Linked DNA regions of Homo sapiens: region 1 is linked to region 2. Evidence: fine-mapped QTL for protein levels in blood plasma. A gene starts in region 2. The other region holds a variant in brackets. All regions are shown on one strand. Distances are from middle to middle. Region 1 overlaps ADAMTS13 (ADAM metallopeptidase with thrombospondin type 1 motif 13). Region 2 holds the start of ADAMTS13 (ADAM metallopeptidase with thrombospondin type 1 motif 13).

Region 1 (5,452 bases), 15 kb before region 2:
AGCTGGTCGGGAAAAATTGAACAATGCCATGGGGCTGGCTCCAGCAGCAGTGAGTCCCCTGTCATGGGGGCAATTAAAAGCAGGCTGGAGGACCACCTGCCAAGGCTCTGCCCTGGCTGGGAGAAGGGACCGGGTCCAAGGTTCTCCAGCACAGTGGGGCAAGCCAGAGGGAGGCAGGGCTCAAGTCTCTGCTCTCCATAGAAGCACTGGCATTTGCAAATGGTTTTTGACCTCATATATACACCAAAGTCAAAGATTTTCCAAATGTAACTACCAACCCTCTCATTCACTTGTGTCCCTCTCAGTGGGATTTCTTGAGCAGGAGAGAAGAGGGTAGCTGCCACAGAATGCACAACGTCCATACTTTTTTTTTTTTTTTTTTGAGACAGTGTCTCACTCTGTTGCCCGGGCTGGAGTGCAGAGGGATCTCGGCTCACTGCAACCTCTGCCTCCTGGGTTCAAGCAATTCTCCTGCCTCAGCCTCCTGAGTAGCTAGGACTACAGGCGCCCGCCATCATGCCCAGCTAATTTTTGTATTTTTAGTAGAGATGGGGTTTCACCATACTGGCCAGGCTGTAGGTGATCTCCCGACTACAGGTGATCCACCCGCCTCAGCCTCCCAAAGTGCCGGGAGTACAGGCGTGAGCACAGCGCCCGGCCAATGTCTGTGTTTTTTTTGCAGCACGGCTACAGTGAGTGACCATTACTGAGGCACCACAGTCCCAGCAGCATCAAGGCCAAAACCTGAGCCTGCCACAGAAGGGTGGCGAAGTGGAAGAGGGAGACGCTGACACCACAGGAGGCATCCAGGGCTGAGTGAGTGTGCAGGCCCTGTGACCTGAGCAGCCCCTGCACCAACGCTCTGGGCTGTGGCCATCTTGGAGGCTGGGGGAAGCCCAGCCTCTGCCCCGAGGGAGGCCGCCTACCTCTCGCTCTGCCAGCTGTGAAAGAGCCCTTCCGTGGGCTGCACGTGCTGTTGTCCCCACCACACACCTGGCACCTGTCCCATACCTGCTGGGAGTCCATCCTACCATCACAGCCAAATGTCTATGCAAAGGGAAGGACAGAGGGCCCGTGTCACTGGAGGGTGCTGGCCTCAATGACTCTGCAGCCCTGCCAGCTCTGAGATTCTGGGATCCACAAAACCAGCAACACTTCTATAGCACCCCACCATCTACACAGGAAGCAAGCTTAGAGGGCTCAGTGACTTGCCCAAGGTCACACTGCAGCCCTTAACCCAGGCTGACTCCAAGTCCAGATCCTTTTCCCCAGCACCACTCCCCTGCAGAGGGCACTGCAGCTCCATCAGGGCCAGCACCCACCAACCTGCCCCCAGGAGCCTTCCGATAGGACAGGTAGGCCCCAGGGCCATCGCCAATGTCCACACACGCCTACCCTGCAGCTGCCCGACACACACAGGCTCAGGGTCCCGTCCTCCCGGGGGCCACTTGGCATACACCGGGTCCCATCGAGGAAGCTGTCTCCACGCTTCATGATGAAGCTCTCGCCAATGGCCCGGCACATGTGTCTGCACAGAGCATCCCCTGGGAGGGCAGAGTGAAAAAGGGTGTCCTGAACCGAGCAGGAGGGGCAAGTCCCCCAGCCCCCACCCAGCTTCATCCTTTGCATCTGGGGCAAGGGTTTCTATCTTCCCCACATCCCACCTCCTAAGGCAATAATCCTAATCACGATCCTAATCTAATCTAATAATTAATGGTATTGAATTAGGAACCAAGGCTGGGCGCAATGGTTCATGCCTGTAATCCCAGAACTTTGGGAAGCCGAGGCAGGCGGATCACCTGACGTCAGGAGTTTGAAACCAGCCTAGCCAACATGGCGAAACCCCATCTCTACTAAAAATACAAAAAAATTAGCCGGCATGGTAGTGCAAGCCTGTAGTCCCAGCTATTCGAGAGGCTGAGGGGCAAGAATCCCTTGAATCCCAGAGGCGGAGGTTACAGTGAGCTGAGATTACGCCCCTGCACTCCAGCCTGGGCGACAGAGCAAGACTCTGTCTCACAAAAAAAGTATCATGAACCAAGGAACACACTTGGCATTTTCCGATTATCTCCCTGAATCCTTGTAGCGCCCAGGGAGGGACCTACTGCTATTATCTCCATTTCACAGATGGGAAATTGAGACTCAGAGATGGGATGTCAGTGCCTGATCTACCAGCGAGGCCTGGCCACTATGTCATCCATGGTCTGTGGGATGCCAGAGCCTGAACCACTTTGCCCAGTGCTGGAGGGATAGTAGGCCAACCCCCCTATGACTCTGCCCTGTCCGAGGGTCTCCAGGGCTGGCTCCTCCCCCAACCCCACACTCCGCAGGCCCCACCTTGGCTGTGTGGTACAGCAGCACCCCAGTGGTAGAAGGAGGCGCCGCCAGGGGAGGAGCGCAGCGGCTGGCCGTCGGTCCTGGCGCACTGTTGCGACATGAACTCCAGCTGGGTCTTCTCGCAGGCCTGGCCAGGAGGAGGCAGAGGAGGGGGATGGCGGTGGGGCGGGGGGCGGGTGTTGTCACTGGGAGACTACATGGCACCCTACAGTACAGGATCAAGATGTGGGTGTGGCCTCAGCTCCAGGCCGTGCCTCGGTTCCCTGCTCTGTAAACTGGGGTGACAAAAGTGCCTGCCTCTCTCTATTGATGGGAAAACCCCGGGGAATCCGTAAAGAACACAGGGCAGCAACGAAGAAGAAAGCCAGGAAAGAGCATTACGCTCAGAGCCTCTGCTTCCAAGGCCTGAACTCAATAAAACAGGGACGGGGATGTGTATTCTTTAGGTAGTGCACCTAGAGGCAGGTAACCAAAGCATGGAGCAAAGACCTCACCACCGAAGCCTCTGCACTCAGGCAGGCGTCTTGGACTTTTATGGGCTGACAGAAGATAACCGGAGTTGACTCCCTGGACAGCCACACTGACCACACTGCCTCCACGAAATCCCACCACCCTGTGCTCCAGCCAAAGACCCTCCCCTCACGGTCTGGGGAGGTCTTGGTGGTCCATTTGGAGAAGGAGGAAAGGGAGGGTCTCACCACATGCAGAACTGTAATACAGCCAGGGACAAACCCACACCCAGGGCCATCGAAGCAGGAGATAGAATTTAACTCAATGTAAAAAGAATCTTTCTACCATTTCATACCACCGAGATGGCCAAAATCAAAAAACAGAAAACAGGCCGGGCGCCATGGCTCACGCGTGTAATCCCAGCACTTTGGGAGGCTAAGGTGGGCGGATCACCTGGGGTCGGAGTTCAAGACCAGCCTGGCCAACATGACAAAACCCCATCTCTATTAAAAAAAAAAAAAAAAAAAAGAAGAGAAAAGAAAAAACAACAACAGAAAACAGCAAGTGCTGCAGCGGATGTGGGGAAACTGGAACCCTGGCGCAATGCTGGTGGGAATGTGAAACAGTTCAGGCACTGTGGAAAACGGTTTGGCAGTTTCTTTAAAAGCCAAACATGCTGGGCGCGGTGGCTCACGCCTGTGATCTCAGCCCTTTGGGAGGCCGAGGCAGGCAGATCACGAGGTCAGGAGATCAAGACCATCCCGGCTAACATGGTGAAACCCCGCCTCTACTAAAAATACAAAAAAAAATTAGCCGGGCGTGGTGGCGGGCGTCTGTAGTCCCAGCTATTCGGGAAGCTGAGGCAGGAGAATGGGGTGAACCTGGGAGGCGGAGCTTAGAGTGAGCCGAGATCGCGCCACCGCACTCCAGCTTGGGCGACAGAGCGAGACTCCATCTCTAAAAAAAAAAAAATAAAGAAAGAAAGAAAAAAATAAGAAAAAAAAAAAGTCAAACATAGGCCGGGAGCGGTGGCTCATGCCTGTAATCCCAACAGTTTGGGAGGCCAAGGCGGGCAGATCACCTGAGGTCAGGAGATCCAGACCATCCTGGCTGACGTGGTGGAAACTCCATCTCTACTAAAAATACAAAAAATTAGCCAGGCATGGTGGCGCGTGCCTGTAATCCCAGCTACTCCGGAAGGTGAGGCAGGGGAATCGCTTGAACCCAGGAGGCGAAGGTTGCAGGGAGCTGAGATTGCACCACTGCACTCCAGCCTGGCGACAGAGCAAGACTCTGTCTCAAAAAAAAAAAAAAGAAAAAAAAAAGTCAAACATACAATTCCCATACGATCCAGTAACTCCGCTCTTCAGCATACTGCCAAAAGAATTGAAAACAGGGATTCAAACATGTACAAGCACATTCGCAGCGGCTCTGTTCACAGGAGCCAAAAGGTGAAAACACCTCAGATGTCCATCAGCAGACGACTGGATGAAAATGTGGTCTATCCCTGCAGTGGAATATGATTCAGCCAGAAAGAGGAATGAGGCGCTGACACAGGCTACAACACAGGTGAGCCTTGGGGACGTGCCGCTGGGGGAGGAAGGCAGGCAGGAAGCACACCTGTTGTCTGGCCTCAGGTACGTGGCATGTCTAGAACAGGTCAATCCACAGAGACAGAAGGGAAACCAATGGCCGCTGAGTGGCGGAGGAGAAATGGGGAGTGACAGCCTACCATATGGGGTTCACTCCAGAGTACTCCAGAGTACTGGAAACGTTCTGAAACTAGACAGAGGCAGTACTTGCCCAACCTTGTGAGTGTACTAAAGGCCACTGAGTTGCCACTTTAAAATGCTTGATTTCATGCTACATGAATGTCACCTCAATTTATAAATAAAAGACTCCTTC[G/A]GCCAGGCGCAGTGACACCTGTAATCCCAGCACTTTGGGAGGCCGAGGCAGGCGGATCACGAGGTCAGGAGATCAAGGCCATCCTGGCTAACACGGTGAAACCCCTCCTCTACTAAAAATACAAAAAATTAGCCGGGCGTGGTGGCGGGCACCTGTAGTCCCAGCTACTCAGGAGACTGAGGCAGGAGAATCGCTTGAACCTGGGAGGCAGAGGTTGCAGTGAGCTGAGATAGCACCACTGCACTCCAGTCTGGGTGACAGGGAGAGACTCTGTCTAAAAAAATAAAAATAATATTTAAAAAATTCCTTTGCAGGCATGCAGCAGCGCACTGTATTCCTAGTGGGGAGGTTCTCCCTGCAGAGATGCGCTCTGGAGGGCAAAGTGGCACTCAGGGAGGGAGGCGGGACGCTTCAGGGGCTCTGTGGGCATCAGCAGGACTGGCCTGGTTTATGAACTGGGGTCCCAATGTCCTTCTCTCTCTTTTTTAATTTTTATTTTTTTTTTGAGACAGAGTCTCACTCTGTCGCCCAGGCTGGAGTGCAATGGCCCAATCTCGGCTCACTGCAAGCTCTACCTCCTGGGTTCAAGTGATTCTCCTGCCTCAGCTTCCCGAGTAGCTGGGACTACAGGCGCCCACCACCACGCCCGGCTAATTTTTGTATTTTCTGTAGAGACGAGATTTCACCATGTTGGCCAGGCTGGTCTTGAACCCCTGACCTCAGGTGATCCACCTGCCTTGGCCTCCCAAAGTGCTGGGAT
Region 2 (5,000 bases):
GCTGGCAGGTCTTGGAAGGATGGCCTTCCGAAGTCAAGACATTGCGTGTCACCCCCACCCCAAGAGCCAGACCCCATTAGTGACTAGGCACGCAAAGGGCAGGGCCCAGGAGGAGCTGTTGGGCTATTGTGTGCTTTGGGTCACCCCATCAAGACAAGATTCCCACTGCCCTGGTGGCTCTGCCCAAAGGGGAAAGCCCCTGCCCTGCCTCCTGGACCCTGCTCTGGGCACAGGTGTTTCACAAGTAACATCATGGACCCCGACAGGAAACTGAACACGAGTGGAGCCCAGTGGTCTCTTGGGAAGCAGGGGCCCAGGCCAGCCCTCACTGTCCTCTCCCAAGGGAGCCCTTAGAGGGTCAGGGACCCTGGGCAATGATCTCCCAGCCTTTCAGGAGCGGCAGCGCTGGAAGGACCCAGGCTATGGGATACCCAGACAGCGTCGGCTGCATCCAGCCCCCAGCGTGGCCCCAGGCACTGGTCAGTGTGCCTCTGGCCTAGACCACAAAGAACCAGGTCACAAAGTGGGCCTTGCCCTCCTGTTGCCCCTGACCACTAGCCCACCTGCCTCTGGCCCCCATCAGCCATTAGTCAAGTTGCCAATGGCCCTACTGGGAAGGGGGCTCGCACCGGAGAAGGTCACAGACATGGGCCTGTGGGCAATGGGGACAGGCCTTTATCATAAGGAAATCCATGGCCTTAGGAGGTAGCCTGAGCCAGTACCTATCTTGTTTCCCACAGAAGGAATAAATATTTACATCCACGGTCAGAAACCACAAGAGCTCCTGAAAATCAGCCAGCTCAGCAGAGGCCATGGGGCAGGAGGGGCCAGCCAATCGGTGACCGTTCCCTTGTGATATTTAACAGAAGCTAGGGTGAGAACCCTGGCCTGGCTGGAACACCCAGACCAGCTTATATCAACTTGGCAGGAAGTAACAGAGTTAATTAACAGGGTTGACAGCAGCTTCTCTGACCTTCTCCTTCCAGATCCACCAAAAATCCCAGACCACTGACTCAGTGGTGAGATACCCCTTGAAAGTCCTGAGAAACTCCCCCCGGGAGAGAAGACACCAGGACAAGTACCTTTTAAGGGAGCACCAGGGCTCAAGTAAGAAGACACGGCCTGTGGCTCCAAAGCCTGAAGACAACTCTGCAAGACAAAAAGAGATGGATGGGGCCGGGCATAGTGGCTCTGGCCTGTAATCCTAACACTTGGGGAGACCGAGGTGGGAGGATCACTTGAGTCCAGGAGTTTGAGACCAGCTGGGGCAACATAACAAGACCCCATGTCTTAAAAAAAAAAAAAAAAAAAAAAAGAGAGAGAGAGAAAGAAAAAAGAACAAAAAGAGATGGATGAAGAGGGAGACAGGAGGCAGGAGGTGGGTGAGGCCAACCAAGAAGGAGAGGGGGAAATCAGAGACAGGGAGAGGAAGGGAGAGGCAGAGAAGAGCAACCTACACAGTTTGGGACAAACTAGTATCTGTCTGTTCAGCTTCACCGAATGAGCAGGTCGTACTGAGACACCAACTCCCTCTTCAGTGAGCACACTTCATCCCCCAAAGCCCCAAGTACAGACTCCCCTGCCCAGCGCAAACCCCAAAGCTGATGTAGTCAGCTATTTGGCACTCCCCTCGCCCCAGGTAGCTCAGAATACCCCACCCAGAGGCTCCCAGAATACCCCCGCTCCTGCAAATGAGCCCACCTGCTGGAAATGGGAGGGTCCCCAGCAGCCCAGGAGAAAGCCACAGGCAAGGATTCCGGCCACACAGAGGGGAGGGCATCTTGCCCGGGGGTGACGCTGGTGCATCCTCAGGAGAGCCAGCCCGAGGAGTGGAGCGGAGTGAGAGGGGGCCTTGGTGACTGGGAATCTGGTCAGTATGGAATGGGACAGGCCTGCTCACTACTGGGCGGGACGATTAGGCAGTGTTTACTCTTGGAAGCTTCCTGCCAGGGCAGGGGCCGTGGCTAGGGTGGGCGGCCTGCAGCTCCTCCTGCTGCAAGCTGGGCCTTGCTCTAAGATGGTTGCAGTTCAGGGTAACCTGCAGCCCAGTCCTGCACACCAGACAGCTCTCCGGATGTGCACGCCCACCCCCTTAGAGGAGGCCTAAGCCATCTAATCTGGAGAAGGGACACTGGACCAGAAACCCACAGACGGGGGTTCACAAGGAATGCCAGGACCTCGGCTGACTCCCTCTCCGGGGTCCCCGCTCCCATCTGACAGATGAGAGGCTGTGCCAAAGACATCGTGGTTCTGGCTCAACTCTCCACCTACTCTGTGCCTGCGCCTGATGAGGAGAGTCGCAGAAGCAGGCTGCACGGCACCAGATCTCAGCATCATCACAAACGGCCTGGCAATCCCCTTCATCTCCTGGAAGACTCACTTCACATGCTCCAAACCACTCTTTTACACCCACAGAGCCGCACAAGCTGATGACCAGCAGGGGGATTCACCTTGTCTTTCCACCCCTCAAAGTGCAGCCTCTCTCCTCCTCTGCGATCAGGGAGGACACACCTACACTTCCTGCCAGGCCCTGGCTCTGGATCCCTTCCCAGCTCTCTCCTCCTGCATCGTTAGTTTCTGCCCCTCTGCTAGAGCCATTCATTCATTCCTTCAGCCAACAAATGTTTCACTGAGCCCCTGAAACAGGCCAGGCTCTGTGCTAGACACCAGGAAAGCAGCCCCAAGCCAGGCAGACAGCAGCCTCGGCCTCTCACAGCTTAAATTCTAGGGAAGAGAGCCAGACAGCAAAGTTGCTAGACAGACACATGTTGTATATGTAGTATGTTCAAAGGTGGTAAGTGTTATGGAGAAAAATACAGCAGAATAAAGGAATGGGGGACTGGAGGGAAGGGTGTGCTTTCATGCAGGAAGGTAAGGAGGCTGTTGGAGAAGGGGGCATGCTTAGATATCGAGATCCTGGTACCTGGCTCACTCCATCAGCATGAATGACTCTCCTGTCTCTTTTTGGTTTTTGTTTGTTTTTTGAGACAGAGTCTTGCTGTGTCACCCAGGCTGGAGTGCAGTGGCACGATCTCGGCTCACTGCAACCTCCGCCACCCAGGTTCAAGTGATTCTCCTGCCTCAGCCTCCCTTGTGGCTGGGATTACAGGCACCCGCCATCACGCCTGGCTAGTTTTTGTATTTTTAGTAGAGGTGGGGTTTCGCCATGTTGGCCAAGCTGGTCTCAAACTCCTGACCTCAGGTGAGCTGACTGCCTCGGCCTCCCAAAGTGCTGGGATTACAGGCATGAGCCACCAAGCCCAGACACTCTGGTGTCTCTTGATTACAATCAACAACCTTCCCTTGACCCACACTGTCCTCCTGCCATAGCCCTGTTTCTGGCTGTCTTTAAGAACTTAGAAACATTATTTTCAGTGGCTATCTCCACTTCCTTGCCTTCAATTCCCACATACCATTGAAATTGATCTTTAAAAGGTCACCAATAACTTTGTGAACCCTGAAAGAGCCAATCCTTCTTGATGGATCCCAAGTTACTAACTGGGCCTAAATTCAAAGTAGGACCTAGCAGCCATTTGCTGACTAGGGTCACACACACATTCTGCGTTCCTGGAAAGCCCCCACTCTCACTTAACTCTGGGATGGTTTCACAGCTATCTGTTCCTGTTTATGCCGCCAGAATCAACCCATCGACTGTGACCTGCATCGACCAATCTGAACTCAGCAAGTATTAACCAATCAGAACTAAGCAAGTGTGCCTTCCTCATTTGCATAAGTGGACCAAAGTGGGAACCTGGGCAGGAAGTTCTCTACAAAAGACGACCTCTTTCTTTGTTCTCTTTGTTCCCTGGAATGCACCTTTGTACAGAAGGCTGCATTGCCCTGGTTTACAAACTGCTGGAACAAAGTTTTTTTCCTTTTTTAAAAAGAAAACCTGGGCCAGGTGTGGTGGCTCACGCCTTTAATCCCAGCACTTTGGGAGGCCGAGGCAGGTGGATCACGAGGCACGCGGATCATGAGGTCAGGAGTTCGAGATCAGCCTGGCCAGCATAGTGAAACCCCGTCTCTTTTCAAAAATACAAAAATTAGGCTAGGTGCGGTGGCTCACGCCTGTAATCCCAACACTTTGGGAGGCTGAGGCGAGAGGATCACCTGATGTCTGGAGATCCATACCAGCCTGGCCAACATGGAGAAACCCCATCTCTACTAAAAGTACAAAATTAGCCGGGCGTGGTGGCACATGCCTGTAATCCCAGCTACTCGGGAGGCTGAGGCAGAAGAATCACTTGAACCCGGGAGGTGGAGGTTGCGGTGAGCCGAGATTGCGCCATTGCACTCCAGCCTGGGCGACAAGAGCATAACTTCGTCTCAAAAAAAAAAAAAAAATTAGCTGGGCATGGTGGCGTGCACCTGTAGTTCCAGCTACCCAGGAGGCTGAGGCAGGAGAATCGCTTGAACCCGGGAGGTGGAGATTGTGGTGAGCCGATATCACGCCACTGCACTCCAGCCTGGGCAGCAGAGCAAGACTCCGTCTCAAAACAAACAAAAAAAAAGAAAACCCTTTTCGGTGGACTTGCTGACAATCTCAGTGCCATATCTGGTTCCCATCTCTCTGTCCTCGTCCTTCTCAGCCTCTCAGCAGCATCTGATGTGGTTTATTCTCCCCCTGGATTCTCTGATGCCACTCACATCCGCTTCTCCTCCCACTGCACTGACTGCTCCCCCTCAGCCTCCTCTGCTGCTTCGCCCCTGGAGAGCCCCCAGCACCTGCTATCTGGTCTTAACCCTTCACTCCCTATATTGGTACTCTCTCTTTGGATGAACTAACCCAGGTTCATGTTTCAACACTAATTATGTGCTGACGATTTCCAAATTACATCTCCAGCACTGACCCTTCCCTAAGCTTAGGAATCTTATATCCTGCTGCTGATTAGACGTCTCTCCTTGGTGACTGACGGCCCGTTCAAACTCAGCAAGTGTGAAAAGGAGCTCATGGCTCCACCCCCATACTTCACCCTGCTCCCCGCAGACATTTATTGAGA

What was found. PIP is the chance, under the fine-mapping model, that this variant and not a neighbour inherited with it causes the effect. Protein levels are from the aptamer-based SomaScan assay of Sun 2018.
Region 1: its variant is fine-mapped to the plasma level of the ADAMTS13 protein (Sun 2018, PIP 0.95).

Annotation. Positions count from the first base shown.
Region 1 is chr9:133,433,841-133,439,292 of GRCh38, reverse strand. ADAMTS13 (ADAM metallopeptidase with thrombospondin type 1 motif 13) reads right to left here. Exons shown (of 29, transcript NM_139027.6): 12 at 2,338-2,464; 13 at 1,396-1,544; 14 at 927-1,047. Among named protein-coding and RNA genes, the nearest start is that of ADAMTS13, 14 kb to the right of the region's middle. The variant G/A (reference allele first, on the strand shown) is at 4,693.
Region 2 is chr9:133,419,250-133,424,249 of GRCh38, reverse strand. It overlaps ADAMTS13 (ADAM metallopeptidase with thrombospondin type 1 motif 13), which reads right to left and starts at 1,883. Exons shown (of 29, transcript NM_139027.6): 1 at 1,702-1,883; 2 at 1,083-1,149. The coding sequence starts at 1,806. RefSeq lists enhancers at 2,129-2,188, 2,309-2,358, 2,589-2,728.